Regions from separate parts of the Homo sapiens genome. Here all the other regions are linked to region 1. The links come from fine-mapping of genetic effects on gene expression. A gene starts in region 1. Each other region holds a variant in brackets. All regions are shown on one strand. Distances are from middle to middle. Region 1 holds the start of ADAMTS17 (ADAM metallopeptidase with thrombospondin type 1 motif 17). Region 2 overlaps ADAMTS17 (ADAM metallopeptidase with thrombospondin type 1 motif 17). Region 3 overlaps ADAMTS17 (ADAM metallopeptidase with thrombospondin type 1 motif 17). Region 4 overlaps ADAMTS17 (ADAM metallopeptidase with thrombospondin type 1 motif 17). Region 5 overlaps ADAMTS17 (ADAM metallopeptidase with thrombospondin type 1 motif 17). Region 6 holds the start of CERS3 (ceramide synthase 3). Region 7 has its middle 190 kb from the start of LYSMD4.

Evidence for each region.
Region 2: its variant is fine-mapped to the expression of ADAMTS17 in whole blood (TOPMed, PIP above 0.99). The same link has a PIP of 0.9 or more in blood mononuclear cells and naive CD8 T cells.
Region 3: its variant is fine-mapped to the expression of ADAMTS17 in caudate (GTEx, PIP above 0.99). The same link has a PIP of 0.9 or more in nucleus accumbens and putamen.
Region 4: its variant is fine-mapped to the expression of ADAMTS17 in nasal epithelium (TOPMed, PIP 0.98).
Region 5: its variant is fine-mapped to the expression of ADAMTS17 in aorta (GTEx, PIP above 0.99).
Region 6: its variant is fine-mapped to the expression of ADAMTS17 in whole blood (INTERVAL, PIP 0.99).
Region 7: its variant is fine-mapped to the expression of ADAMTS17 in whole blood (TOPMed, PIP above 0.99).

Annotation. Positions count from the first base shown.
Region 1 is chr15:100,339,615-100,343,679 of GRCh38, reverse strand. ADAMTS17 (ADAM metallopeptidase with thrombospondin type 1 motif 17) reads left to right here and starts at 1,705. Exons shown (of 22, transcript NM_139057.4): 1 at 1,705-1,859; 2 at 2,271-2,641. The coding sequence starts at 1,781. RefSeq lists an enhancer at 2,853-3,371.
Region 2 is chr15:100,227,138-100,231,202 of GRCh38, reverse strand. All of the region lies in intron 7 of ADAMTS17 (ADAM metallopeptidase with thrombospondin type 1 motif 17), which reads left to right. Among named protein-coding and RNA genes, the nearest start is that of ADAMTS17, 110 kb to the left of the region's middle. The variant T/C (reference allele first, on the strand shown) is at 1,548.
Region 3 is chr15:100,123,823-100,127,887 of GRCh38, reverse strand. All of the region lies in intron 12 of ADAMTS17 (ADAM metallopeptidase with thrombospondin type 1 motif 17), which reads left to right. Among named protein-coding and RNA genes, the nearest start is that of ADAMTS17, 220 kb to the left of the region's middle. RefSeq lists an enhancer at 3,425-4,065. The variant C/G (reference allele first, on the strand shown) is at 1,811.
Region 4 is chr15:100,046,668-100,050,732 of GRCh38, reverse strand. It overlaps ADAMTS17 (ADAM metallopeptidase with thrombospondin type 1 motif 17), which reads left to right. Exons shown (of 22, transcript NM_139057.4): 18 at 1,741-1,876. Among named protein-coding and RNA genes, the nearest start is that of ADAMTS17, 290 kb to the left of the region's middle. The variant C/T (reference allele first, on the strand shown) is at 1,757.
Region 5 is chr15:100,027,745-100,031,809 of GRCh38, reverse strand. All of the region lies in intron 18 of ADAMTS17 (ADAM metallopeptidase with thrombospondin type 1 motif 17), which reads left to right. Among named protein-coding and RNA genes, the nearest start is that of LYSMD4, 300 kb to the right of the region's middle. The variant T/C (reference allele first, on the strand shown) is at 2,499.
Region 6 is chr15:100,528,016-100,532,080 of GRCh38, reverse strand. CERS3 (ceramide synthase 3) reads left to right here and starts at 3,131. Exons shown (of 12, transcript NM_001378789.1): 1 at 3,131-3,268. The variant G/A (reference allele first, on the strand shown) is at 2,036.
Region 7 is chr15:99,924,483-99,928,547 of GRCh38, reverse strand. No RefSeq gene overlaps it. Among named protein-coding and RNA genes, the nearest start is that of LYSMD4, 190 kb to the right of the region's middle. RefSeq lists a silencer at 109-168 and an enhancer at 1-184. The variant C/G (reference allele first, on the strand shown) is at 2,203.

The DNA.
Region 1 (4,065 bases):
TATGTTTACAAAATGTATATACATGAAATTTTTTGATATGGCCATACAATGAGTAATAATCCCATCAGGGTAAATGAGGTGTCCATCACCTCAATCACCAAGGTTTCTTGTGCTGCCAGAAAATGCTACTGAGCTGTCAGTCATCTGAGGTTGTTGACCTGGACAGAGGCAAGGGGGAGAAACACAGCCCCAGGCCTGGCCAAGAGCAGGACCTGTGCAGATGCCCCCAGAACTGTAGGTGCCAAGCAGTGAGGGCAGCCCCTTTTGTGGCAAGCCTCTGTGGAGGGTCACTGTTCAGCCTTGGGGTTCATTATATTTCGGGGAAGGTGGCCAGTGTTATAGATTCCTTCAGATGATATGTAATCCTGTGATGAATTTAGATTCCGAGGCTTCAAGCAGCATCCAGCGGGGAACTATAACCTTTCTGCTATGATAAAATGGAAAAGAGCAGGACAGGGAAGGGACGGGAAACCTGAGATTGGTTATGGTTACACTTAATTGTTTTTTTTGTTTTGTTTGGTTTTGTTTTGTTTTTTTGAGATGGAGTCTTGCTCTGTTGCCCAGGCTGGAGTGCAGTGGCACAATCTCGGCTCACTGCAACCTCCACCCCCCGGGTTCAAGCGATTCTTCTGCCTTAGCCTCCCGAGTAGCTGGGACTACAGGTGTGCGCCATCACGCCTGGCTAATTTTTGTATTTTTAGTAGAGACAGGGTTTCACCATATTGGCCAGGCTAGTCTGGAACCCCTGACTTCGTGACCCGCCCGCCTTGGCCTCCCAAAGTGCTGGGATTACAGGCATGAGCCTCTACAAGATGCTATTCAGCAAGCTAATGGAGTCACCTTCCCTGCAGACCTCAGTTATATTGTGGCAGGAAAGGATCAACTCATTCTGTTTCTGGGAGACTCACGTTCAAGGCTAGGCTTTGGGACTTTGTGCCTCCGTTTCCTAACCTGTAACACTGAGTCCTGCTTCCCTCGGGGCGGGGGGATCCTGCTGTTAATAAGAAGCACCAAGCCAGAAATCAGGATCACAAATTCTAGCCTCTGCTCCAACAGGAACTCTCTGGGTAACTTCAGCGTTTTTCCTTAAGCTCTCTCTCTTCCTCAGTTTTTCAGTCTGTAAGAGGGTGTGAGCATGCGTGTTGCACTGGCTCCTGTGGGATTAAAGAAGACAGGAGGTGTGAAGAGTTTGGATAAACGCCGCGGATATAGCCTTCAGGTGCTAACTCAGGTGTGCGGGAAAGTGGACTGGGAGTCTTTGCGGCCACAAACAACTAAAACCTAACTTCAGATGTAAAGATTATATGCAGTTTTGGATGAAACCGCTTGGCCGGGGCGATTTCCGCCCTACCTTCCCGGGAAACTGGGCAGCAGGCTGAGAGAGTTCCAAAATGAGGACAAGCTCTGAAGACCAGCCCCGCATCCTCCAGCTCTTCCAGGGTCCCACGGCTCCGGTCGGCTCCCGCGCGCCACCTGGTGCCGTGTCCCCGCCACTGCCCAGAAACCACGTGTAAGAAAGCGCTGACAACCTAACTACGCACTGTGGTTTCGACCCATCCCAACCAGTAGGGAAGGAGGAGGCGGGGCGGAGGAAAGCGAGGGCCCAATCCCCTCCCGCCTTCCGAGGGGAAGGCGGGGCTTGGGGTTTACCACGTTGGGTTTGTCCGCAGCGCTAATTACTTTTTCCAAAGGCTGGAGGGCTTCACTCCGGCTGGCGCCGCCGCCTAGCGCGCTCCTGCTTCGCCGCCACGGTCCGGGGGGGCTGCCGGTCCCGGGTACCATGTGTGACGGCGCCCTGCTGCCTCCGCTCGTCCTGCCCGTGCTGCTGCTGCTGGTTTGGGGACTGGACCCGGGCACAGGTAGCGCCCCCTCCCACAGCCCTCTTCACCCCGCGTCCTGCGGCTACCTTCCCTCTGCGTTCTCGCGGCGTCCTGGCGGCCCGGGGGCGGCGGCGGGACCGCTGACGGCGCCCGAGCGGAGGAGGCGCGGGCCGCGGCCGGAGTACGGGAATCGGGTGGCTCCGTGGCAGGCGCGCCGCCGCCGGGTCTCCGCTCGCCGATGCGCGGCGCCGTTCCGGGAGGTGCTCGCGCGGCTGCGCCGGAGACCCTCCCCGGGTGGCGCGGGCCAGCGTGGAGGTGCCGGGCGAGGGAAGGGAAGGCAGCGCCGGCTCCGGGTCGCGCTGTCCCCGCGCTGGCGCGGCTGGCGGCCAGCGGGAGGGCGGGCGTCCGGGCGGGCCCCGCCGCGCTGACGCGTCTCCTCTCTCCCCGCAGCTGTCGGCGACGCGGCGGCCGACGTGGAGGTGGTGCTCCCGTGGCGGGTGCGCCCCGACGACGTGCACCTGCCGCCGCTGCCCGCAGCCCCCGGGCCCCGACGGCGGCGACGCCCCCGCACGCCCCCAGCCGCCCCGCGCGCCCGGCCCGGAGAGCGCGCCCTGCTGCTGCACCTGCCGGCCTTCGGGCGCGACCTGTACCTTCAGCTGCGCCGCGACCTGCGCTTCCTGTCCCGAGGCTTCGAGGTGGAGGAGGCGGGCGCGGCCCGGCGCCGCGGCCGCCCCGCCGAGCTGTGCTTCTACTCGGGCCGTGTGCTCGGCCACCCCGGCTCCCTCGTCTCGCTCAGCGCCTGCGGCGCCGCCGGCGGCCTGGTACTGCCCGCGCCACCTCCGGGTCGGCCCGTCCGGTCTGTTGCGACGCAGAGTGGTCGCCGTGGAGGGTGGGGGTGGGGCGCCTCTGCTGGAAGTCCAGCCTCCAGGGGAACCGGAGGGAACCCCCTGCCTTTCCACCTCTCCCCATCCCCCACCCCGGCCTTCGGTACCCTCTATAGGCAAAGGGGGTGGGAGGGGCAGCATCCCAGTCCAGCGCCTCTGCAGCCCGTGGAACCCGCGCGGAGCTGGGGTTGCGTGGGGTATACGCCGCCCGCTCTAGGGAGCGCAGATCTGGCAGGGATGAAACTGTCAGGGCCCTGGACAGAGGCGCCTTGGCCCCAATGTAGAGAACACTGCATCTGCACCGCCGTGTCAAAGTGTATGTCACGGGAGTACCTGTGTACGTGTAGGTGTTATGTTCTTGGACTTGGAGGTGGGGGAGTGGGCATTCACCTCCCTTCCTTTTGAGTCTTCTCTCTGTACCTGGAACAGGAAGTTTGGAGAGGTACCCAGACAGGCCACGGCTCACCCCACTCTTCCTAGCTGAAACGTAAGAAACAGGAGAGAAAGGGTGTTTGTCTTTGCTTCCTTATACTATTAGTAGGCATTTATCTGGTGCCCACCCCCAACCAGGCCTGAGGGGTGTTTACATTGGTGATAAACCCTATTCCTGCCCCCAGGAGCTCCCTTGCTGTGGCAGTAACTTCCCTGCCCCGAAGTTCCTGGCCTGTTGCATTTGAGGCACCCGGAACAGGTGCTCCCAGGGGGAGGGGGGGTTCTTGTGTGCACTTGCCCTGCCTGCGCGCACACTTGATCATGTGGCTACACTGGCGCCCAGACGAGCACTCAGCTTCTCCATCGTGCCCCGAAAGCCGCACACATGGCCGGCAGATGGGCTGCCCCCAGCGAAGCTTGGTATGGACCCAGAGCATGAACCGCAGGGGTTCTCTGTCTTCTGTCATGACTGGCCTCTGGGGAGGCAGTTTCTGATATTAGTTTGTGTCTGTCCTTCCCAGGCACAAGAAACTGCTCCCCACACCTCCACCTTTTCTTGTGCCACCATCTAGAATTCTCCAGCCCTTACTCACAGAGTCTGTGGCGAGTCCTCGAGAATCTACGAAGCTAGAAGGCTGGGGGTGCAAGGTCTTATGTGAGACCTCTCTTTCTTCCCAGTCCTGCGGGTATCTCTGTGTGTAGTTTCCTAGATCAGTCTGGCTCTCCTTTCAGGAATTTTCTGAGTTCTGATTAGGGTATGATAGACTTTTGCTCAGCTGGGAAAAATAGGCAACTTTGGTGAAACAAGGAAAGTGATATAGACCCTTGGAGGGGGCCTGGTAGGAAGGAGCTAATGTGGACCTGGGGCGGGGAATGTGGACCTGGGGCGGGGAATGTGGACCTGGGGCGGGGAATGTGGACCTGGGGCG
Region 2 (4,065 bases), 110 kb after region 1:
CGTAGGCCATAACATAACACGGTCCTGAAAATAATGAGGCACACCATTGCTAGATACAAAGTACTTAAATTCCCTGATGGAAGTATTTATTTTAAAGACTGCTTTGGATTATCTTCCTCCCAGGATGTGCAGGCGCTCTCTCTGTGTTCTGATGGGGTTGCCAACTTCACAATTCCTTTTGGTGCCAACAGAGTTCTCAGCACCAGGTGGAAAGGGTGGCTGCCTTCCAAGACATACCTTGCTTTATTGCTAATCCCTCTGTCTCCTCCCCCCGTGGGCTGTTCTTGTCCCCTGGCTGCTGGGAGACAGAGTGATGGCTTCCTAATTGGGTCCCCAGGCAGTCCCAACACCTGTTTCAGGAGGTGTTTGGTATCAACAGTGGACATGTTTCCGAAGCTAGGTGTGTGTGTGTTTAAATTCATTTTTATAATTTTGTTTCTTCCAAGCATTGTCGTTACCCACTATTGGTGCCTTCATTTAAACAATAAATGCTTTCATTCAAAATGCAATACTTCCTAAGCTTTTGCTGAGTGATCAAACCCGAAAAAAGTGTTAAATGCCAGTCACTCCCATCTCAACCCAGTGGTCAGGCCTGAGATAGCTGTTATGAAGATGCCTCAGGACAATTAGACTTTTCAGGAACTTTTCGGCTATGATGCCATTGCAATTTGCAGACCATCCCAGTCTAACCCCGTTTCCTCCACCCCTTGCTCTCCTTGCACCATTGCTGGCCTCAGATCCCTCCCTGCTGTGAGGTTTGGAATTAGCTCGTGTGTCTATGGCATGGATGACTTCTCCTCCAACTCTGTACCAGCCAGCATCTGGAAAGAGTTATACACAGGAATCTGTTACTATCTAGCCTGCCCTCAGCCCTGGATGCGCATCTGATGTGGAGACCCACTGGACGCTCTGTAGAATGTGGAGTTCTCTTTGAAGGTACCACAAAGATAGGGGTCTGCAAGTGTGGCTTTCGTGCACCGCGGGTGTCATTCGTGACGTGTTTGTGCTCTTCTGCAAGCCCAAACTGCGGAGAAAGTTTAACTGAGAAAACCACTTATTCTGAGTTGTCTTCTCAGTTAATATGCCCCTGGTTATGTTTAAGTGCCCGGTGTTGGTTATGCTCGTGCAGCTTGGCCAGGAAACTTCTAGGACTTCAGCATGGGATGGGTGGTTGGCAGTGGGGGCAGAGTGAGTTGGAGCTAGTTGATGTGCTGTGGGTGCATCCTCCTTAGCTGTGAGGGAGGCCAACACAGGCAGGCTTTCCCTGCACTGATCATCTCAGGTGACTGTGTGGCAATTTCCTGCTGGTCAGGGAAGGTGCTGTGGCCTTTCATCTTGGCTCTGTGTCCACCTGCTCACTGGAGCTCCATACTTCACCACTGCAAGAGAGTTGCCCTTGCGTTCTCTGTCTACACTTCAAAGGAAGATGTTTGCATTTGGTCAGGGAGAGGGAACTTTGCAGTTAGTTCTCCTGAGGCTCTGTGGGTGTTTTGTTGTGGGAGGAGGCGTGTCAGCATCTTCAACGGATCATGTGACCTTTGAGTGGT[T/C]GCCTCTGGGACATCATATGATTCTTTGAGGTCAACAGAGGGTGGATCCTTTGGACTGCAGCCAGGAGACTGGGTCCTTTTTAGTTTAGCGGGACCAGCCTTGCTGTGGTTCTCAGTCCAGAGAGAAGACTTCCTGAATGTGAAGTGAGCATCCAGGTCAACAGGCAGAACCACTGTGCGTCATAGAACAGAAGCCACTGAAATAAGAGTGATTGTCCCATGGACCAAGACATCAGCAGAGATTTGTAAGGCAGGAATTTGCAAGGGAAGGCATCAGCAACACTCATGTTTCACGTCAGAGTTGCAGGGCAGGATATTAGATAAGAGGCCTGGGAGTCCAGTCAATGGTCACTTCTGTCAATGTGGGGAGGGGGTGGGGAGAGCTACCTAGGAGGGAGAGTGATTCATAGCCTGAAACCATCTTTGCGTCCTATTTGCAAGCTGTTGGGTTGTGCAGGACTTAAAGCTGTGCTGGCTCCTCAGCACCTGCAGTGTCAGTGGTGAGCTACTCTGTTGGGGTCTTCAGGGATACTCCATAAGAACCATCTTCCCCTCCCAGGCTTGGAACCAGTGGTAGTCACAGTGTCTGTGAGCATTACTACCAAGGAAGCTGATTGGAGAAGGGGGCCCAAATGTCACTGAATGTTTCACCTTAGAATGATCCAATTTGCTCCCTGAAATTTAACGGAAGCACTATCCAACTTCTCTTCTGCAACTGTCACAGACAGGACCGCAGGGCAATGGCCCCCTCGTAGAGGCAGGTGACACTGTGGGTGGTGAGCCCACCACAGGGCCCCATCCTCCCACAGGTAGGCAGGGAGAGCTGGGGTTGGGGGGCTAGTGAGCAGGCCAGCTCCTTCCCCCAGACCATTGGACAGACAAGTCACCTGCCCTTGCCAGGCAGAGCATTGCTGTGGCAGACCTCACTCTGCATGGAAACACGAGGGGTAGAGAATAGGAGTTCTCCAAGAGCATGCCAAGTGTGGCATTTGACGTTTCATGCCCTCACCTGCCTGTGTCTGTTCAGCGCTCTCTCGTGGTCTCTCACATGTCCACTTGGGCTGGGTCTGTGTCCTCATCCTGCCCTAAATGTACCTGCTCACTCTCACCCTCGAGTTTTCCTTTTCTCCTCGGTCCAGTCCCTCTTTCAGTTAGTTCATTAATGCACTAATTGATCAATAATGAATTCAGCAGTGTTCATGAGCCTCTGTACCTGTCAGGCTTTGCGTATGGTACCAGTATTATAGTGATGTGCAAAGCAGATGAGATTCCTGCCTTCAGAACACTTACAGTCTAATCAGAGTGACAGGCATAAAAGAACTTGTCATACAAATAGATATGATGATAAACTGGGCCAGGTTTCTTGAATGCAGAGGTCACGCGCTGGATGGTGTCAAAGTAGACTGTTCTGAGGCCTTTCGGAGATGGTAACATCAAGGCTAGGATCCGAACTGTGAGAAGGAGTCAGCCATGTAAAGATTTCGGGAAAGAGCGTGTAGGTGAGGAGATGGCCCCTTCTGAAAGCCTTGAAGCAAGAAAGAGTTTGGAGCATTTGAGGAACATGAAGGAGGCCCAGTAGTGAGAAATAAGGCAGGGCTGTATCTGCAGGGCCTTGAGGGCTCCACAAAGCGTCGTGGATTTTATCTGAGTGTCGGGATTCATCATCAAAGAGCTATGGGCAGATGACGTGGCCATGTTTACTGCAGTGGGAGCAAGGTCAGGAATGAAAGCCGTTGCTCTAAGATAACAGTGGGTTTGGAAGGTATTGCTAGTTGTGGACTTAGCAGCCATGCCCCTCTCTTATACATTGCTGGGCTGTGTGCCCACCCTCAGGTGATGAAGCCGGTCACGACAGTCCATTCCTTTTCCTGGATAATCACTTACCTGGTCTCCCTTGCAGCAGTGGCTGTGCAATCCCACGTAGCCCAGGGAAATCTAAGCAAAGGCCTGCTGGCAGCCTCAGAGAAAGGTTTTCCACCCTGGGAAGCTACTGTGTGAGGACAGTGCTTAGGGCTTCTGCAGCTGTCTTGGGACCATGAGGGAAAGGCCAGGAGGACCACAGATCTGTCCATCCAGCGATGTGCCATCACTGGGCTGCCTGATCAATCCAGGGCCGCCTGCCTCTCCAGACTTCTGTGTTGAGCAATGGTGTCTCGTCTCTGATTAAACCATTGTTTTCTATTACTTGCGGCCAAGTGTACAGTCATTTAGGGGAGATAAAGAAAAGTGGGTGGATCTGAGATCTCCATATTGACATGACTTAGTAATGAATTGGAGGTGGAATGGGGAGGATTGGAGGGGGTAGTGAGGATTTCTGATGTGGGTGGGAAAGACAGAGGATCTCAGTTTTGCTCCCAGCAGAACAGACAGTGGTTATTTGGGTTGAGGTGAACCCACTTTGATTTGGAGCTGGGCCTGAGTCAGAGGTTTGACTTTAGCCTGTGAGAAATCCAGGTGGAAGTGTTCAGGAGATGGTTGAAACACAGATCTGGATTTGAACAGCGAGATCTGGCTGAGG
Region 3 (4,065 bases), 220 kb after region 1:
TCAGGGGGCCGAGCCCAGTGGCTGATGCCTGTAATTCCAGCACTTTGGGATTCTGAGGCAGGTGGATCACCTGAGGTCAGGAGTTCAAGACCAGCCTGGCCAACATGGTGAAACCCTGTCTCTACTAAAAGTACGAAAATTAGCCAGGTGCGGTGGCACATGCCTGTAATCCCAGCTACTTGGGAGGCTGAGGCGGGAGAATCGCTTGTACCCGGGAGGTGCAGTTTGCAGTGAGCTGCGATCACACCACTGCACTCCAGCCTGAGTGACAGAGTGGGACTCCATCTCAAAACAAAACAAACAAACAAACAAAAAATAGAATCACATTGAAGTTTGGTAACTTGCCCAACGTCACACACGAGGCAGCGGCAGGCCACGTTTGGAGCCCAGTTCTAGAAACCAGAAGTCCAAAATCAAGGTGTCAGCACAGTGCTTCCTTCTTGAAACTCCAAAGGTGAATCCGTTTCGTGGCTCCCGGCAACCCTTGGCCTCCCCTGGCTTGGAGGTGCATCACCTCCATCTCTGCCTCTGACTTCACGTGGTCTCTTCTCTGTGTGTCCTCTCACCTTTTCTTCCCTTGGAAGAACGCTTGTCATTGGATTTAGGGCCCACCCAAATCCAGGATGGTCTCATCTCCAGATCCTTAGCTTAATTACATCTGCCAAGGCCCTTTTGCCAAATAAGGTCTCATTTGCAGGTTCCGAGTGGACTATCTTTTGAGGCCGAGGGGACCCACCGTTCAGCCCCCTGCAGCCTCGAAGCCTCCTTTGTGCTCTCGGCCACAGCATTCTAACCCCAGGACCCTCCCCAGTGCTGTCTTCCCTTTCCTTAACTTACCCTTTTCCTTTCTTTGGGTGTTAGTGTAAATGTCTTCTCAAGAGATCTCTGCCCCTGACAGCCTGCTTCAAATGGGGTGCTGCTTAAGTCTCCCTCGGCACCTCTTCCTTACGTTACACGTGTTACAACAGCTGATATTGTTGTTATGTATTTGCTCACTTGTTTTGACTGTGTCCTCCCCACTGGCCTTTGAGCTGAGAGCTCTGTGCAGGCCCGGGACAGGCCACACCTGTTTGGACACCATGCTGCCTTCCGTGCCCACAGCAGAGCGGCCACTCCATAAAATGTGCTGACTGCCTTCCTGCCTGGATGTGCACTTGCCCCAGAAAACCAATCTCTCTGCAATACCAGTGCCTCCAAAACACATCCCTAATATCATTTTTTCACTGAAACACAAAGCTGATCATAAACGATTAGGCCAAAAGTGGCAGACCACCAGGTAGACCTCATGCCCTTGTATCATCTCCCCTCACTGAGGCCCAGATGCTATAAACGGCCACATGAGGCCTATCTGTCACCTGTTGTGCCTGCCCTTCTCCAGCAAGGTGGCATCTCAGTCTGGAGTGCTCGGCATCACCTTGAGAACAAGCTTCAACACAGAACCCAGCCTTGTTTTTCCCCAGTAAGAGAAGTGATACCTTTTTGCTCCTATAATATTTACACCTTGGTAGTCTCTTCGATCTTTCGCAGTGGCACCGTAGCTCTGTTTTCTGTTGTGAATGAAAACAACATGCTCCTTTTTCCCATGTAGTTTTCTATGGAGTTTCTTGCCTCCATGGATCCAGCCCAGGTGAATGGGAAGAGGCGGGACAGGCCTTGGGTGGGTGGATTACCAGCCATCTCCGGGGCTTCCCAAAGAGACGCAGGATGTGGCGTGTTTTATGAAGTCCAGGCTGCAGCCTCCAGCCTGCTTCTGCAGGATGCCCTGATGGTAGTGATGGTTACAAAGCGCAGCTGACCAGGGCCTCAGAGC[C/G]AAGCTCTGACGAAAACAACGTCCTCTCCCCGTCTCACTCCTTAAATCACCAGGCCTGCTGCCTAGAGATTTCACAAGGTTGTCCCAAATTCACTGCTATGTAGGTCTCAGGCTTGGAACGCTCCCACGACCCCCTTCTCACCCCCTTCACTTTATATTCCTGGCTCTGCTCCCTGTCTTCTGCAGCTGGTTTATTCACTGTCCAAAAATACTGGCAAGAGAGTCCCCCCACACACAATTATTTTTTTTAGTCTTGGTCTTCACAGCTCTTGGAATTTTTATTTTTTGCTAGCTGACGTGGAGGCCTTAGGGACCATCGGTGTTTCCAAAGCGACTCCCTAGGCCCGTCCTTTCCTGCTATAATTTATGTTGCTGTTGGTGGGAGTTACGTCAGAAGACTGCAGGGTAGAAAATGCATCTCTAATTTACCTTCTGTTACCCCTCGACAGTTTGTGTGTGGGGAAGAGCTGGGGAGGGAGGGGAGAGGAAGGCTCAGATGCACTTGTATGAAAAGCCAGCTGCATCCCAGCAGGTGCAGCAGGGGCAGGAGAGTGGAGTGCAGAGCTGGGACACAGCAGGGTCATCATGAGGTGCCGCCCACATGCACCAGAAAGGGAGAGGAAGGCGGCTAGCCTGCTAAGACGGCGGGAGGACGGCTGGTGTAAGGTTATGTGCCTGTAACTGGTTTTTGCTTCCACAGTGAAACCCCATCTATGTGCTTTCCATGTGCCAGCGATCTGGCATTCATATGGATAATTTTTAAAAATTTAAGTATTCTACACTGAAGCATAAGTTACATGTGTTACTTGGACACCTTTCAGAGGAGGCCTTAAACCTGGGATGTCTGCTGCCCTGAGGGTGCGTTAGCAGCTCGCAGCACTTCTGAAACCCTATGGCTTTGCCCTGCTCTCTTCTCAGAGCTCACAGAGCCAGGGGCCGCCAGGGCAGGGACCAGAACTGCCAGGTTTGTACTGAGCGTCCTGTGTCTCTGGATGGTGAAGCTGGTCCGAACTGCTGTTGTGACTTTATCTTCTGGTCTGTCTTCATTTAATACAGCAAACCTGAAAATAAAAAGTGGCATCTTTCTCTTCCAGCCTCTCTTGATTCTACCTGTCCATCCACTCTCAAAGAAAGGGGCAGATGTTCTGCCATATGATCCTGTTGGTCTCAGCAAACCTTTGCTGCTTCTCTGCTCTGGGCTTGTGTCTATCAAGGCCCTGAGGACTCCACTTCAGCAGGAGACGGTCCTTGTTCTGCAGGCGCTTGGGAAATTTTGGGGTAGAGCTCACCTTTCTCTCCACGCTTTCGGTTTCTCACCAAAGCCTCTCTACCTTACTCTTTTGCTTATTTTTAAACAAACTTATGAAGGTAGAATATACAAAGAAGCACAGCTCCGTGCACAGTATTGCTCATCACGGTCGAGCATGTGTGTTGGGGCGCACGTGCAGGTATATGTCAGTACAGTAGGAGGGCAGTTGCTGGCCCCTGGGGCGCGCATGTGTGACCACATAACAGCTGCCAGCTTTGCAGAATGGCCGTGCCATCTCCATTGCCGTGGCTGGGGTGGCTTTCTACTTGCCCCATGTCCTCACTGACACCGGTGTTGTCAGTAATTCTCTCTGGTTTTGGCCGTTCGGATGCGTGTGTAGCAGTATCTGGCTGGGGAATTGGTACTTTCCTCATCAACAGTGAGGCCGAACTTCTGTTTCCTTATTTGCCATTTGGATATCCTTTTCTTGTGAAGTAGCCATGCAAGCCGTTTGGTTTTGTATCTAAGCTTCTATTTTATTCACGTTTAGGAGTCCTAGAACAGGCCTGGCAGAGTGGCTCATGCCTATAATCCCAGCGCTTTGGGAGGCCAAGGCGGATGGATCACCTGAGGCCAGGAGTTCATGACTAGCCTGGCCAGCATGATGAGACCCCATCTCTACTAAAAATACAAAAAAATTAGCCGGGCATGGTGGCGCACACCTGTAATCTTAGCTACTCAGGAGGCTGACCCACAAGAATCACCTGAACCCAGGAGGCAGAGGTTATAGTGAGCCGAGATCTTACCACTGCACTCCAGCCTGGATGACAGAGCAAGACTCTGTCCAAAAAAAAAAAAGTCCTAGAACAGAAAAACTAGAAACGATTGATAGTAAAAATTCAAATTAAAAAACCCATCACACCCCGATGACTGGTCAGTGAGTCAGGCTGTCCTTCAGGCCTCGTGGTGGCTGATGGGCAGCCCCTCCCAGAGGCAGAGGCAGGGG
Region 4 (4,065 bases), 290 kb after region 1:
TTGGATAATGGAGTGGAACCCCGGGCATAGCCCCCGCCATCCCTAGTCCTGAGCACCTATTGACTGCTTGGATAACTTTTGTTAGATGTCCAATATGTAAAGCATTGCTTACCATTTAAGGGATTCATCCCATTTTTCATGGGTAGGAGTTATAGACACACAGGAGTTTCTTCCTGGGCATCTTGGCCAACCACCCTCACTGTCTGTGCTTAGCCTATTCCTGCAACAGCCCTGCGGCAGTTGGCATAGCCTCCGGATACCACCATCAGCCCTGCATCCTCCACTCTGCACCTCTCCCCGGGGGGCCTTCTCCCCCTCAGCCCTTAGCTGCCGCTTGTGCCGATGGCCTTTCAACCTCCAAATCCAGCTGACACATCTACCTCTGATTCCAGCCAGGTTTTCCTCTTGGGCAGCTTGTTACAAACTAAGCATAGCCCACATGGAATAGTCAGGCTCTCCTGGGGTCAGGGGCAGGCTGTTCTGTTGCTGTTGGCTTGGTGGCAATCCTTTTATGACACTGATGACTTCCAGCTTCCTAACACAGTGGTCAGACCTGCCACCAAAGCTGAAAGCAGTTCCGTGCTTTCTGTACTCATGCGAGGCTGCCATGTGGGGCAGCAGCAACTGGCAGTGGAGTTCAGGTCTCCATGATTTCGAGTCATCCCTACATGACAAATTGCCCAGGACACAGACCCAGCAGGGAGCCCAGGATCCAAATAGTTGTGCTTGACTCCCTATTAATCTTTTATTGTCACTCTTCCCAAATAATAATAATGACAGCAATAGAGCTAAGATGAAGTGTTAGCCACCTGCCAGGTTCTGTTCTATGGACACCATATATATTTGTTTATTTTAATCATCACTGAGGCACCCTGAGGCACAGGGAAGTTAAGCAAACCAGGCTGCTTGAGGAAACTGAGACACAGAAGTATGGTGGCCAACTGTTGACACTATGGCCACTGTGATGCTATTTGTGATACAGCCAAGACTTGAACCCAGACAGCCTGGCTCCAAGGGCCACCCTCCTAACTCCCAGTCACTCAGCCTGCCTGACAAAGGCATGGCCGTGCAGTATTTAGGGTGACAAAGGCATGGCCGTGCAGTGTTTAGGGTGCTCTGGGAACACCTATAAGAAGGGCTACATCTATTTGGGATAATGAATTAGCAAAGCTTCCCAAGAGCAGGTGGGGGCTCAGCCATAAGTACCAGCTGGCTGGCTAGACAAGTCAGAATGGCTCTGGAATGCCTGTCTAGAGGATGCAGGTCTGTGTGTCTTCCAGACCAGACTCCTCATCTCCCACTTCTCCCCAGCAAGCAGGAATTCTGTAATAGGTAGCCAGACTCTGCTGAGGGCTGATGTGCAGGTCTTTAATTGAGATCAGATCTCCATAGACTTTAAACATCAAACAAGCAGATAAAAAGATGAGCAATCTTTGGAAATCAAAGGCCCAAATCAACGAACCCCAAGCTGTCCAAGGACACCGCTGATCTGAGGTGTTGCTGCTTTCTTATCTTGTTCTAGAATCTTCCAGGGCCCCACTCTGCCTTCTGTGTCTTGTACTCTCCTCCCTACGATTATAGTTCTTCCTCTCTAAAAACCCACATGACATTTACAGCAGTCACTTTAAATGACCAAGTGACCATCAGCAGCACCCAAACATGCTTTCATGGGCATGCAAGCCCAGCCTTTCCACGTGGGTGCAGCCACAGTCTCTCAGCTCCCTGTGGTTTGGTTTCCAGGGGAGCGCAGAACCAT[C/T]GTCTCGTGTACACGGATTGTCAACAAGACCACAACTCTGGTGAACGACAGTGACTGCCCTCAAGCAAGCCGCCCAGAGCCCCAGGTCCGAAGGTGCAACTTGCACCCCTGCCAGTCACGGTAAGAAGCTGGGTTCTGTAGCTTGGACCCACCAGAGTCTGGGGCGGCAGCACCATCAGTGGTGGGGAGTGATATGCAGTTAATGCCACAGTACTGCTCTATGCTGTGTTCCGTTATTGTTGATGAGAGATTTCCGCTTGCTCAAATTACCAAATTTCCAGCTACTAAGCCAGGACTCTGATGGAAATACAACCTTCACTGGAAGGCATTGTGTAGGAGACCATTAGTAACATCTCATGGCAAAAAAAAAAAAAAAAAAAAAAAAAATGGCCATCACCACACACTTTTAACCATTGGCTTCCCCAAATTACTTTGTCTTGGTGGAGAAGGAAACAAATATTGGAGTCTGAGTGCCCAGGAGAAAGGTGCACACAGGCTAATGTTGTGGGTGACCTGTTTCAGTGGCTGAAATTCATGCCAGTGAGTGTGGATCTTGGTGTTTATTCTTCGGGATCCATCAGAACTTCTGTCCCAGCCCCAGCTTTCATGGCCGTGTTACCCTTGTGGACTCTCTTGGGTTGTCAGGAGATGAATTGTGTGAAATGCGTTCATCAGCTAAGCCTCCTCTTTTTGAGTCATTTTAGCGGGACTTTAATAATGAATCCATTACGTTGTGGCATGTCACCCTTTGGCCTTCCGTCCTGCTGTGAATTGAGGTGAATGGTTTTTGCTTTGTGGTTCTGTGTATCATTTGAGGCATATTGACCTTTTCTAACTAGGCTAGGTGTTTAGTATTTCCATTTTCTAGGTTTCTTAACTCAATTTGTGCCGCTTGCCTAGTACAAGAGCTTCACAACATATTTGGCTTTTGCACCGACCCCCTTTGTTTTGTCAAACTCTTAAAATGTGTTTGAGTGAGAAAGAGAGGAGACAGGAAGGAAAAAAAGAAGGTGAGGCTTGCTGTGATGATTTTCTGTGCTCCTTGCCAAATTAAGAATGAAATTCCACCCTAATGCTGAAGGCCTGGAGGAAGAGCTCACTGCAGGAAATCTGCTTGAGCACCTCGGTATGAGCAGCTGTACCACGAACCTATCGATCAGTCCATCAGGTCATATTCAGGGGCCACAGAATGGAGGATTTGCCACTGTAAAGACTCAGCAGTCTAACAGGCTACAGCCTCTTCTCTGGAAACTAAAGATGGCCTGGCCCTGGTGAAGTGATTAGAAAATAGGGTAAGAGACGATGGAGGAGGAGAGGTCAGCATGAGCTCAAGGGCATGATTGAGCAAAAAGGTCTTAGGGCTCCATTCGAGAAGCATGTTTTTATTGGGGAACCTGCCCCCAATAGTCACATAGGTTCTTTTCTATTTTCCCTAAGCGTCGGCTGGCTTGAGAAATAAAGGGACAGAGTACAAAAGAGAGAAATTTTAAAGCTGGGCATCCGGGGGAGACATCACATGTCAGCAGGTTCCGTGATGCCCCCAAGCCGTAAAACCAGCAAGTTTTTATTAGGGATTTTCAAAAGGGGAGGGAGTGTGTGAATAGGGTGTGGGTCACAGAGATCACGTACTTCACAAGGTAATAAGATATCACAAGGCAAATGGAGGCAGGGCGAGATCACAGGACCACAGGACCGGGGCGAAAAATTGCTAATGAAGTTTCGGGCACCATTGTCATTGATAACGTCTTATCAGGAGATAGGGTTTGAGAGCAACCAGTCTGACCAAAATTTATTAGGCGGGAATTTCCTCATCCTAATAAGCCTGGGAGCGCTATGGGAGACTGGGGCTCATTTCATGCCTACTGTCTCAACCATAGAAGACGGCCACACCCAGGGGGGCCATTTTAGAGGCCTACCCTCAGGGGCTCATTCTCTTTCTCAGGGATGTTCCTTGCTGAGAAAAAGAATTCAGTGATATTTCCTCCCGTTTGCTTTAGAAAGAAAAGAAATATGGCTCTGTTCTGCCTGGCTCACCGGCAGTCAGAGTTTAAGGTTATCTCTCTTGTTCCCTGAATGTTGCTGTTATCCTGTTCTTTTTTCAAGGTGCCCAGATTTCATATTGTTCAAACACACATGCTCTACAAACAATTTGTGCAGTTAACGCAATCATCACAGGGTCCTGAGGCGATATACAGCCTCCTCAGCTTACAAATTGACAGGATTAAGAGATTAAAGTAAAGACAGGCATAGGAAATCACAAGGGTATTGATTGGGGAAGTGATAAGTGTCCATGAAATCTTCACAATTTA
Region 5 (4,065 bases), 310 kb after region 1:
TGCAGCTTAGTCTCCAGTGCCCAGCAGCGCCTAGAGCTTAGTAGGTCTTAGTAAGTCATTTGAACAGATAAATGGATTGTTTGATACTGGTGGAGGGAATGTGCCTCAGTCATCCCAGAATTGCTCATCTCTATGGTTAGCGGCATTATGTCGAAAATGAGATTTCATTCCGGTGGCATGAGCATTTACCCATTAGGGGACAGATGTCTGGTCTGGACAGATGCTCCGTTGATGAAGGGGTGGAAATCAGAGGCTGGTTTAGGACCCTGGTGTATGTTGGATTGTCTTCTAGTTAAATCATTCACCCTCTCTAGGTAGAGCCTGTGGTCGACTTTACCCATGCTGTGTCCTACCCATAGCCCACCTTGACTTCTTCCTCTAGTCCTACTCATTCCACTCTCAGCAGCAGTTTCTGCAGACATATTTTAAATCTTTCCTTTACCTGCTCATGCTTTACAGCAGCCTTTATTGAAATGGATTTGTTTAAAGTTGGAAGCAATAGCAAGATCATCATCTACTTATCATGTAGAGGCAGGAAGACATGCAATTTGTTAGGTTCGGTAGCTAGCCAGAAAAAGAATGAAATGCTCCATCCATTTCACCCAGGGGCAGCTTCACATGGTGGGCATTGAGAGACTGACCTCAGGTCCCCACCTCACCCCTAGCTGCATGCAAACCCACGGGCAAGTTACATGATCTTGCCATCTGTAAACATGGGAAATGAGAACATCTGTCATAGAAGTCTTGAGGAGATGAAGTGAAGTAATGCCTATAAATTCCTTCACCCCGAGTCAGCACTCCGTGAACGCCAGCCAAAACTATCATCACTGCTCAACTACAAAACTATATCGATGATGAACATCAGCCAGCTGTTGGACCCCAACATTTTGTGGGTTATCCATTATTTCGTAAGACACTCCTCACACATACACATGTGAGCGTGCACACACACATTTTTAATACAGTTATAACTACATAATCTAAACCCATGCTGGTATTTTCCAGATAGTAAAAGATTGCGGGCAGGTCCCAGAGTATACTAACATTCCCCTTCTTGTCAGAACAAGATCATATAATTTATACGTATTTCAGAGTAAATTGCAACAGCAGAAAAGTCTTGAGTGGTTCATTTCTAACCTCTTGAATGCTTCTGAGCTCTCTACTTGTGAACTTTAGATAGTATCATCAGCAGGATGGGGGTAAGACTAGGGAAGGAAAAAGGATCATGGGAGGGTCTCAGCATCATTCAAACCCGAAGATTGGATTTCAGGCTCAGCGCGTGACTAGAGATTTCACAGATGTGCCATGCCCAGGTGGCTCATTACAGACCACTGGAGCCCTGGTAGGGGGAGCGTGAGGAGGTTGCATTTGTGGGTGGATGTGAAAGGCTGGTTCCTGCCAGCACTTCTGTCTGCTAACCTGTATTTGGGTTTAAATACCACTGAAGGAAGGAGCCTGATGAAATTGAAGTACATAATTTCCAAAAGGAATTCCTTACGACATTAAGGGCAGAAATTAGCACTGAGGAGGTAATGAACGTGCCCTGGCCCACACCGTGCACATGGCTCAGTCGTGTTTTCCTTCCACGACTCTTAATCCGCTTCCTGGGAAGAGGATGTTCCCTGGCCAGGGGGAGAGAGCTTTACCCTGAATCATGAGAACAGGGAGGGAAAAACATTTCAGCTGCACCTGCCCAGTGAGTTGTCAGGGAGGACAAAGGGTGATCTGGGGGCCAGCACCTCTCAGAGAGCTGATCCGAAGCAAGGCTCAGGCCTCGGGTGATTATTTTCCCAATATGTCTAGTGGCTCTACTGTGCTGAAATCCCCAGGAGACTGGGTAACTGACAGAGTGCTGGGCCCCACTCCCAGAGCTTCTGATTCAGTACATCCAGAGTGAGACCTGGAAACTTACATTTCTAGCTAGGGCTCTGATAGCACTCATGATGCTGGTCCAGGGACTGCATTGAGAACCACCAGCATATAGTAACGAAGGTCCCTTGACATTTTAACTCAGAAAGCATGGTGGAAATCACCAGATTTGGTGAATTGGGTCCCATGACTTGAATCTAACAGCAGATGCAAAAATCCTTCAGTAGAGATAGAGTATGGGGCTTATCTAGGAGGGAAAGGTAGTCGGTTACCTCATCTCCTGAAGACTTCAGGGCCCAGAGCCCAGGCCACTGAGGGGAGAGAGCCACAAAGCAGAGACCTAACCAAGTGGAGACTGAAGGCAGGACTTTGCAGGAGGCTCCAGGCGTTGCATGGCAGCAGCTCTGGTGACTGGAGCTGGGGATGGAAATGAGGCAGCCGGATGCCCTAATTGACAGACAAAGCACTCCCCATTTCTCCTCTCTCTGGCATAAATGGATGAATGAAAGGACTCATCACCCTGACTTTATTTCTTACAAAGCAGGAAGGTTTGTGACAACCTGGGAAGCAACGGCCATTTTGTTTTGCAGTTTGCCACAGTCAGGAAAGGAAACCGAGCAGGGTTAAAT[T/C]TAGATCCCTATGTTTTGAGAAGATATTAATAGAATAAGTAAAGGTCAGAGTAGAGGTAGTTTTGTTCCCACAGCTACAGAAAGTCAATACAGCTCAGCACCAAGCGGAAATCTGGGAAGATTCCATTCTGACTCCATAATCACAACTGACCCAACAAGACATAAGATGGGAGACATACTCAGGACTAGGGGTTCACCCTGGTGGCTCAGGGTGAACCAGATGGAAAGACCCAAGTGCACTGAGGCATGCAGCAATGGGAGGGAGGAAACAGTTTGGAGCCTTAGCAGGCAGCTCGGGCCAGACAGCGAGATGTCCGCAAACAGCCTTGCTAAGAAAGGTTTGACAAAGATAACTTTTTGTGGTTGTTTTAAGTTAGCCCTTGAAATAAGGAAAACTGAGAAGGAGATGCCTGTTAAGGCTAAAAGTGACAAAAGGCAAAGTGCAGGTTCACTGCTGCTTTTCAAAAAGGAGAAGGAGGGTAAAGGTAGAAGGCAAAGGTAGAAGAAAGCAGGCAAAGAGCATGGCAGCTCAAGAAAACTAAGGAGGGAACCCTGAGAAGCAGAAGCAGTAGAGTGAGGACTCCAGCAGCCAGGTTCCCATCTCAGCCCCGCTGCTGCCAGCAGGGGACCTGCAGCAGGCCACTCAACCTGTCTGTACGACAGGGGACTGAGAGAGTTCCTACCTCAGAGGGCTGTCATGAGAATGATGCGAGCTAAGAGAAATAAATGGCTCAGGACAGTTCCTGGCACACAGTAAGAGCTAAATTTGTCATTTTTATGATCACTGTTATGATTTTCTAGAAGTGTCCAAAACCCCATTCCAGGACAAAATCCAATCCAAGATGCTACAGAACTTTACAGCTGTCATCTCTGAGGCTCTGCTGACTGGTTCTGAGAAATCACAGCAGACAAGAGCAGAGCCAGTGGTCTGAGGGCTGGGTCTCAATTTCCCAAACAGATAAATGGCCGGGTCCGAAGAATGCCGTTTCAGAGTGCTGTCAACCCCTGGCACAACTAGAGGATGAGGGATGATTTAGGCAGATGGTTTGCATGCATTTTTGAAAAGAAGGCTGCATGAGTGCCCCAAATGTGCGAGGGTTTAATGAGAACATTCTGCGCCTGTCTGACAGTGTTATTGGGGTGGTGGGTCAGGTCAGCAGAGCACTTAGTAAGCTTCCCATGATATTATTATGGATGAAGCAGGGACACAGATGGCAGCTGATGGCTCATCACCCAGGCACTACAGTTCCTAGAGGGTCTGTCTGTGGCTCTGCCTGTACAGCTTGTCAGCAGCCTCCTGTCATGTGACTTCTCTGGGTAGGGCTCCCCAGTGGGGACTGCCATGGGGTCAGGAGACTCCACAGAAATGTGTGGCTATCAAGTGGTAGGACTCGTCTCAGAACGGGGCACTCATTCTACTCCCCAGCCCACTCCTTCTGACTCATGAGACTCAGACTCCCAGTTCTCAGGGTCTGCATGATGTCCTCACAGATCAGACCAAGATTTTATAACTAGCTAAACTATCCTTCGAGTATCAAAGCTTTAGAAAAACAATTTTAAGTAGACA
Region 6 (4,065 bases), 190 kb before region 1:
TTACTGTGTTTTCCTCTTCTAGTTCCTAAGTGGCTCTCCAGAACCTTGACTGGGTTTGTCTCTGGTCTACACTTCTCCTATCCCTCTCCTTCCCAATTTACTAGGTGAAAGGCACCCGGTACCCGCTTTGTAATGCACCCCTACTGCTCCCGACAACACCTCTCCACTGTCATGCTTAATTGTCTACATTTCATTTGTCAGAGGTCCGACGTTCACTTTTTAAAATGCAATGAATCATTAACATGCTAATAAGTGATTTAATATCTATTAATGAGGATTCGCAATATAAAACTGATTTAATGTCTCAACTCACTGCTTCCGTTTTCTCATAAAAGGAAACAGCTAAGTACTACCTAGGAGAAATGATACCCACGTGCATGCATCTTGCTCTTTCCTTTAATGCTTCCTGGGGTTCTATCTTTTCTCTTAGCAATGCACTGATACATTTATGGTGAGGCACAAGTAAGAAAGAGAAGAAAAAAGGAATCACCTTAGGAATCCTTGAGATAACCATATTTGCTTTGTTTTCAACTCCACACACAGCCTATTTCCTGCCCTGGGTTATTTTCCTCAGAGGAGCTGTGGAGATGACTAGACTTACACATAGGTCCACAGCTCCCACAAAGTCTTCACCAGCAAACCCTCCGAGTTCCTCACTCCCACAGCTCCCACAAAGTCTTCACCAGCAAACCCTCCGAGTTCCTCACTCTCATTCCTCTAGCACAAGTTGTGCAATAGCCTCATTTTTACATCTTGCCCCTGAAGAAGGGGGAAGAATTACACCTTGACAGTGACTCAAAAAAGACAGCAGATGCTGACGGGGTTCTTTTGATTAACAGGAGTTATAGAACTATGTCTAAATAGTTCCGATTTGATTTGAACATTATATTTTATCAGCAAATAACATGTGTTTCATTGTAGAAGTAACTAAAACAAAGCATGAAAACATGTGGTTCTACAATATTGGTTTTTTTGTTTTTTGTTTTTTGTTTTTTTGAGACAGGAGTCTCACTCTGTCACCCAGGCTGGAGTGCAGTGGAGTGATCTTGGCTCATTGTAACCTCTGTCTCCTGGGTTCAAGGAATTCTCCTGCCGCAGCCTCCCGAGTAGCTGGGATTACAGGCGCCCACCACCATGCCCAGCTCATTTTTTGTATTTTTAATAGAGATAGGGTTTCACCATGTTGGCCAGGCTGGTCTCAAACTCCTGACCTCAAGGGATCCTCCCACCTCGGCCTCCCAAAGTGCTGGGATTACAGGTGTGAGCCACTGTTCCCAGCCTGGTTCCCCAATATTCTTTTGGCTTGTTTAATTCTGAGTAAGAGAGTCCAAAATAGGGTTCAGGACATTCTTTTCCCGAGATATCCCCGGAGTGAAAATGAGTGTTGGATGATCACTATTTTGGGTACTAATTGTTTGACCAGTATTGAACAGCTGAGCTCCAGGGGTAGAAAGAGATCTAAGGCTTGTCCAGTGAGGATTCCCAAAGTAGTGGGGAAGCAGATACAAAAATCAGTTAAGTTGTGATAGAGTAGTAGGTGTTGCAATAAAGGTATACCCACAGAACAGAGAGGGCCGAGGCTAGGGAAGCTTGAGCAGGATTCAGACTTTCATTAGGCACAGAGGCGAGAGAGCAGCTCATGGCAAGGGCCCAGAAGCTGCCCACTGTTGTGTCTGGAATCTAGTGGGAAAGGGCAAAAGGAAGTCCTGGAGCAGCAGGTTGCGAGCAGGCCATTGTGCCAAGGAGTCTGGTCTTGATCCTATAGGTAGAAGGTGGCTGGTAGAGTTTAATCAGCAGAAGAAAAAGAAATGAGAATGGGAATGTGAGTTAGGTGACAATTGGATGAAGATGGAAGCCTCATGTCAGGAAACCAATTCTGCAGTGGTCTCCTGGCAGAAGGTGAGGCAGACCTGAACTGAGCCTACCTCGGTTAGTGGCCAAGTCTGCTTTAAATTCATCCCTTCTGCCAGATGGTTTTAAAAATGCATGAGCCCATTACTGAAAAACAGAACGTCTTCGAAGAGAAAGGCAGACC[G/A]GGAAGCCCTGAGTGAGAAGTACCCAGTGAAAGGAAGGGCGTTTATCAATCCTCTCTCTTTGAACTAAATTCATTAGTGAAATCTGAGAAACTTTGGAGCTTTAATGAATTTGAAACTGGTGTTTCCCTTTATCTGCATCTAGTCCATTTTTAATTTGCGGTCATCTATTAGCTGATGAAAAAAGAAAAATGTCTTTCAGCAGTTGAAGACAGCTAATGAGAATCAGGCTCTCAGTGTGGGCGGTACTGCTGATGTTTGGTTTGTGAGAGATACAGGAATCAACTTGTTGAAGCTCTCTACTTGTCAGAGCACCTTTAAATAATCCAAGCCCAGAGTTGTTTCATCTTCAGGCAAGAGAAAGTGAAAATGGCTTCAAAGGTACAATATCTCAAATAAACACTATAAAATGCATCCACACTTGCCTTTGAAATTGTAGTGGTTCAAGCACACAGAGACAAGCAACAATGTTTATTTCCTGATACTAATGAGCTTGTCTGTCTTTGTCTATGATGATTGTTCTTAGAGACAAACAAATAAAAATGCGAATTATATCTGACTGTTCTAAGAAGAAAAGATTGCCAGACTATTGTATTTTTTGGCAGTTATATGCTTCAAAAAACTGATCGTTTTCTCAATTCCTAGGAAGCGGGCAGAGAAATCACATTCCTGTGGACCAATGCTCCTTAGTGGATGAGTTTTGTGGCATGGTGGTGATTTAGTTAGTAAGAAGCCCTGCCTGTTTTCTGGAGAGTACTATACTTGTCGAACCAGCTCCTAGGACAGTACAGGGTTGTGACTGGTGTTTTGGGGTTCTCTCTGCGCATAAGCCCTTTCCTTTTAATACAAACAGCAAGATCATCCTGTTCAGCAGTTGACAGATGACTGTGTGCACCAAAAGGCAACAACGATGAGGCAACTGATGCATTTGTAACTCAATGTCTCACTGAATTCCAGCTTTCTTTTCTCAAGGTGGTGAAACAGGAAGCAACATCCCATCAGGAAGAACCTGAGGGTGCCATCCAGTAGCTTCGCCTCACGTCACTGACTGCCCTCAGTCAGAAATCTTGACTCGCAACTTTGGAGGGTGGGTCTCTGAAGGAATTTCAGGTCTTACACAGAGATGAGTTGTGCTGCTCTCTGAGGAGAACGAAGCTGGTTGGAACGTTGGAAGCTGCTCTCTGACTACACTTCACAAGCAAGGGGCACCTTTTGTGGACTGACATTTCAGAAAGGTAGGCGCCATCCCATGGATGTGGTTAGTATTTGAGGACTTTCAAAACCAAGGTGGCCGTGATTCCGCGTGTGAGCTTGTGTGTGTATGTGTGCCTGGGTGCGTAACAGAGAGGGAGAGGAGATGGAGATTGGGGGAGAGGCGGACAAATGAAGAAATGTTCATTTTTGGTCTGATGTTTGGGAGAAATACAGAAAAGACAGACTTGGGGCCCTTTGCTTTGTAGAGTTTTGCTTGGAAGTGTTTAGTAGTAGAGGGTAAATTTCGAGTCCAAACTTCCACTCCTGACCTGCATTGCTCTCGGGCGAGTTTAAACTGATTCATTGAGGGTTAGGAAGAAAGGTCTGGGCAGTGAAATCACACACGGCTGAATGCTCAGCATAGCTTGGTTTATCAGGAAAGCCCTGAATCCAGGTGGAATGAAAGGGGTCAGCACAGATCTTTGCCAGGTGGCAAAGGCCATTTCAGACCATCCCAGAGTGCCTTAAGCTGAGAACAAGGTGGGACTTGCTCACCCCACAGTGGCAGGCCTTCCTAAGCTGCTTCTGTCTTGAGAGATGTAGTGCTCAATGTCATGCCAGGAGAAATTAGCTGTTCGGTTCTAAGGCTGCCAGTCTCATGCAGAAAAGTGAAACAAAATCAAACTACTTTTTCTGATCCAAGCAAATGTTTAGCAAGAATGTTCTGTTAAGCATTTTTATTTTTTTGAAACCTTTACACAAAACAAGGGAAATAAAGCTTTAGGGCTGACCAGATAATGAATTTTAATTTATTCATTAACCCACAATGTTCAAGTGC
Region 7 (4,065 bases), 420 kb after region 1:
ATCTCGGGCGAGCAGCGCTTCGCCAGGCTCGGCCCACGGCGACGCCACAGTGCCACCTGCCGGCCGGACGCCCTCGCTCGCGCACCCCGCCCTCCTCACTCGCGCACCCCGCCCTCCTCACTCGCGCACCCCGCCCTCCTCACTCGCGCACCCCGCCCTCCTCACTCGCGCACTCCCCCGCCCTCCTCACTCGCGCACTCCCCCGCCCTCCTCACTCGCGCACTCCCCCGCCCTCCTCACTCGCGCACCCCGCCCTCCTCACTCGCGCACCCCGCCCTCCTCACTCGCGCACCCCGCCCTCCTCACTCGCGCACCCCGCCCTCCTCACTCGCGCACTCCCCCGCCCTCCTCACTCGCGCACTCCCCCGCCCTCCTCACTCGCGCACTCCCCCGCCCTCCTCACTCGCGCACTCCCCCGCCCTCCTCACTCGCGCACCCCTCCCTCCTCACTCGCGCACTCCCCCGCCCTCCTCACTCGCGCACTCCCCCGCCCTCCTCACTCGCGCACTCCCCCGCCCTCCTCACTCGCGCACTCCCCCGCCCTCCTCACTCGCGCACCCCGCCCTCCTCACTCGCGCACTCCCCCGCCCTCCTCACTCGCGCACCCCGCCCTCCTCTCTCGCGCACCCCGCCCTCCTCACTCGCGCACTCCCCCGCCCTCCTCACTCGCGCACCCCGCCCTCCTCTCTCGCGCACCCCGCCCTCCTCACTCGCGCACCCCGCCCTCCTCACTCGCGCACTCCCCCGCCCTCCTCACTCGCGCACCCCTCCCTCCTCACTCGCGCACTCCCCCGCCCTCCTCACTCGCGCACTCCCCCGCCCTCCTCACTCGCGCACTCCCCCGCCCTCCTCACTCGCGCACTCCCCCGCCCTCCTCACTCGCGCACCCCGCCCTCCTCACTCGCGCACCCCGCCCTCCTCACTCGCGCACTCCCCCGCCCTCCTCACTCGCGCACCCCGCCCTCCTCACTCGCGCACTCCCCCGCCCTCCTCACTCGCGCACCCCGCCCTCCTCTCTCGCGCACCCCGCCCTCCTCACTCGCGCACTCCCCCGCCCTCCTCACTCGCGCACCCCGCCCTCCTCTCTCGCGCACCCCGCCCTCCTCACTCGCGCACTCCCCCGCCCTCCTCACTCGCGCACTCCCCCGCCCTCCTCACTCGCGCACCCCGCCCTCCTCACTCGCGCACTCCCCCGCCCTCCTCACTCGCGCACTCCCCCGCCCTCCTCACTCGCGCACCCCGCCCTCCTCACTCGCGCACTCCCCCGCCCTCCTCACTCGCGCACTCCCCCGCCCTCCTCACTCGCGCACCCCGCCCTCCTCACTCGCGCACTCCCCCGCCCTCCTCACTCGCGCACCCCGCCCTCCTCTCTCGCGCACCCCGCCCTCCTCACTCGCGCACTCCCCCGCCCTCCTCACTCGCGCACTCCCCCGCCCTCCTCACTCGCGCACCCCTCCCTCCTCACTCGCGCACTCCCCCGCCCTCCTCACTCGCGCACTCCCCCGCCCTCCTCACTCGCGCACTCCCCCGCCCTCCTCACTCGCGCACTCCCCCGCCCTCCTCACTCGCGCACCCCGCCCTCCTCACTCGCGCACTCCCCCGCCCTCCTCACTCGCGCACCCCGCCCTCCTCTCTCGCGCACTCCCCCGCCCTCCTCACTCGCGCACCCCTCCCTCCTCACTCGCGCACTCCCCCGCCCTCCTCACTCGCGCACTCCCCCGCCCTCCTCACTCGCGCACTCCCCCGCCCTCCTCACTCGCGCACTCCCCCGCCCTCCTCACTCGCGCACTCCCCCGCCCTCCTCACTCGCGCACTCCCCCGCCCTCCTCACTCGCGCACCCCTCCCTCCTCACTCGCGCACCCCGCCCTCCTCACTCGCGCACTCCCCCGCCCTCCTCACTCGCGCACTCCCCCGCCCTCCTCACTCGCGCACCCCGCCCTCCTCACTCGCGCACCCCGCCCTCCTCACTCGCGCACCCCGCCCTCCTCACTCGCGCACCCCGCCCTCCTCACTCGCGCACTCCCCCGCCCTCCTCACTCGCGCACCCCGCCCTCCTCACTCGCGCACCCCGCCCTCCTCACTCGCGCACCCCGCCCTCCTCTCTCGCGCACCCCGCCCTCCTCACTCGCGCACCCCGCCCGGCAGTGCGGCCCGCACCCGCCCCCTCCCGAGCACCCTGGCGCGCACTTAGCCAGTACCTG[C/G]GCGTGCACCTCGGCGTTCAACGCGGCCTTTGCGGCGGCTCTCCCCTTGGACCTGAGGCTTCCCGCTTCGTTCTAGAGTGAAGGCTGGAAGAGCCCAGACAGGAAGGTGTCAGCTCTGTCCCACACCCAGGTGGCCTGTGCTGTCCCTTAAGTACAGCAGCAACAACGTCACCTGGGGAGGAAAGCTTCATGGAGCTCACCAGATTTGCAGGGGTGAAAGATGGAGGGAGGAGGGGAGTTGGATTCCTATACTAGTTTTTATCTGGATAACTTCTGAGCCAAGCACAGCTTTGTGAGCCTCTAGAGACCCCCTAACCTACTTGCATCAACTGGACATAAAGAGGGGAGCCCAATAGCAACTGCATCCATTCTAAAACCAAAAGCTACTGTTATTCGCCAGGCATGGTAGTAAGTGTCCTATGAGTGTTAATTCATCCATCAAACATTCTTTGAGCTTCCCCTCTGAGCCAGATCGTGTCTAGGTGCCTGGGATGCAGAGGTAGCGAACGTGCCCACACAGGCATACACACGCATTCCTATCCCCTCTACTTCGTCGGCGCTGTTGTTTGACATAGGAATTACTACCACCTAAAACACTATATATTTTACTTTATTTTTCTTATATTATTGTCTGCTACCACACATGTATGCCTGTGGACATCCACACCAACCCCCACACACACACAGACACATTTTTTGTGTGTTTTGTTCACTTTTGTATCCCTAGCACTTAGGAAAGTTGCCTTACACACAGTAAGTGCTCACTCTTTATCAGCTCAAGGAACTCACGATTTGGTAATCTGATGTATTCCTCAAAATTCCCTAAAACTAGGGGATTATATTGTTCATTTGACAGAAGAAAAGGCTGAGGATGGGGAGTGGCCTGCATGGACTGATTCAACTCTTAGCAGTGGAGATGGGAGGCAGACCCAGGTCTGCTGATCCTAAATCCTGTCCTCTGAGTGTCCCCCATAAGCTAATTACTGGAGAAAGCAGAAAGAAAAGAAACCACTATTATCAGCATTGCTTTTCATTTTATTAATCTGAAGAGTGAACACAGTGAAAGCAGGCAGCTACATGTTAGCTGTAGACTGTAGACCACATCTGTTCAAGAATCCCTCCGAGATCATTACATATAAAAATGGCAAATAAAATAATTTTAGCTTTATTTATTTATTTAAAGTTCTACTGAGATAGCAATAAAATAAGGAAAACAATGAGAGGGCAGAAATTCCATTGGAATCAAAATCCTGTATGAGTGAGCTGAATTTTGTCCTGAAGGCTTCTGCTGGTTTCCAGTCGCCTAGAACCACAGTTACACTGAACTATGCTGGGTACAAATGACCAAAGTAAGAGGGGAGCTGGGCTGGAGGAAGAGTTCTGACCAGAGACCCCTGCATAAAGTCAGAAATCCCAGAACTCAATACCTTCAGTGGGTGAGCACAGAAGCAAAGAAATAAAACATTCCCCTAACACATTCCTAACCATCTGTCCCTATTTGACTAGGAAGAGGGCAAGAATCTACACTTTTTGTGAAAATTGAAGCCCCCTCGCAAATAGAAAGTTTTGGGTTTGGTGTTTTTTGTTTGTTTTTTGAGATGGAGTCTCACTGTGTCACCCAGGCTGGAGTGCAGTGGCGTGATCTCGGCTCACTGCAAGCTCTGCCTCCCGGGTTCACACCATTCTCCTGCCTCAGCCTCCCGAGTAGCTGGGACTACAGACGCCCGCCACCATGCCCGGCTAATTTTTTTGTATTTTTAGTAGAGACGGGGTTTCACCATGTTAGCCAGGATGGTCTCAGTCTCCTGACCTCGTGATCTCCCCGCCTCAGCCTCCCAAAGTGCTGGGATTATAGGTGTAAGC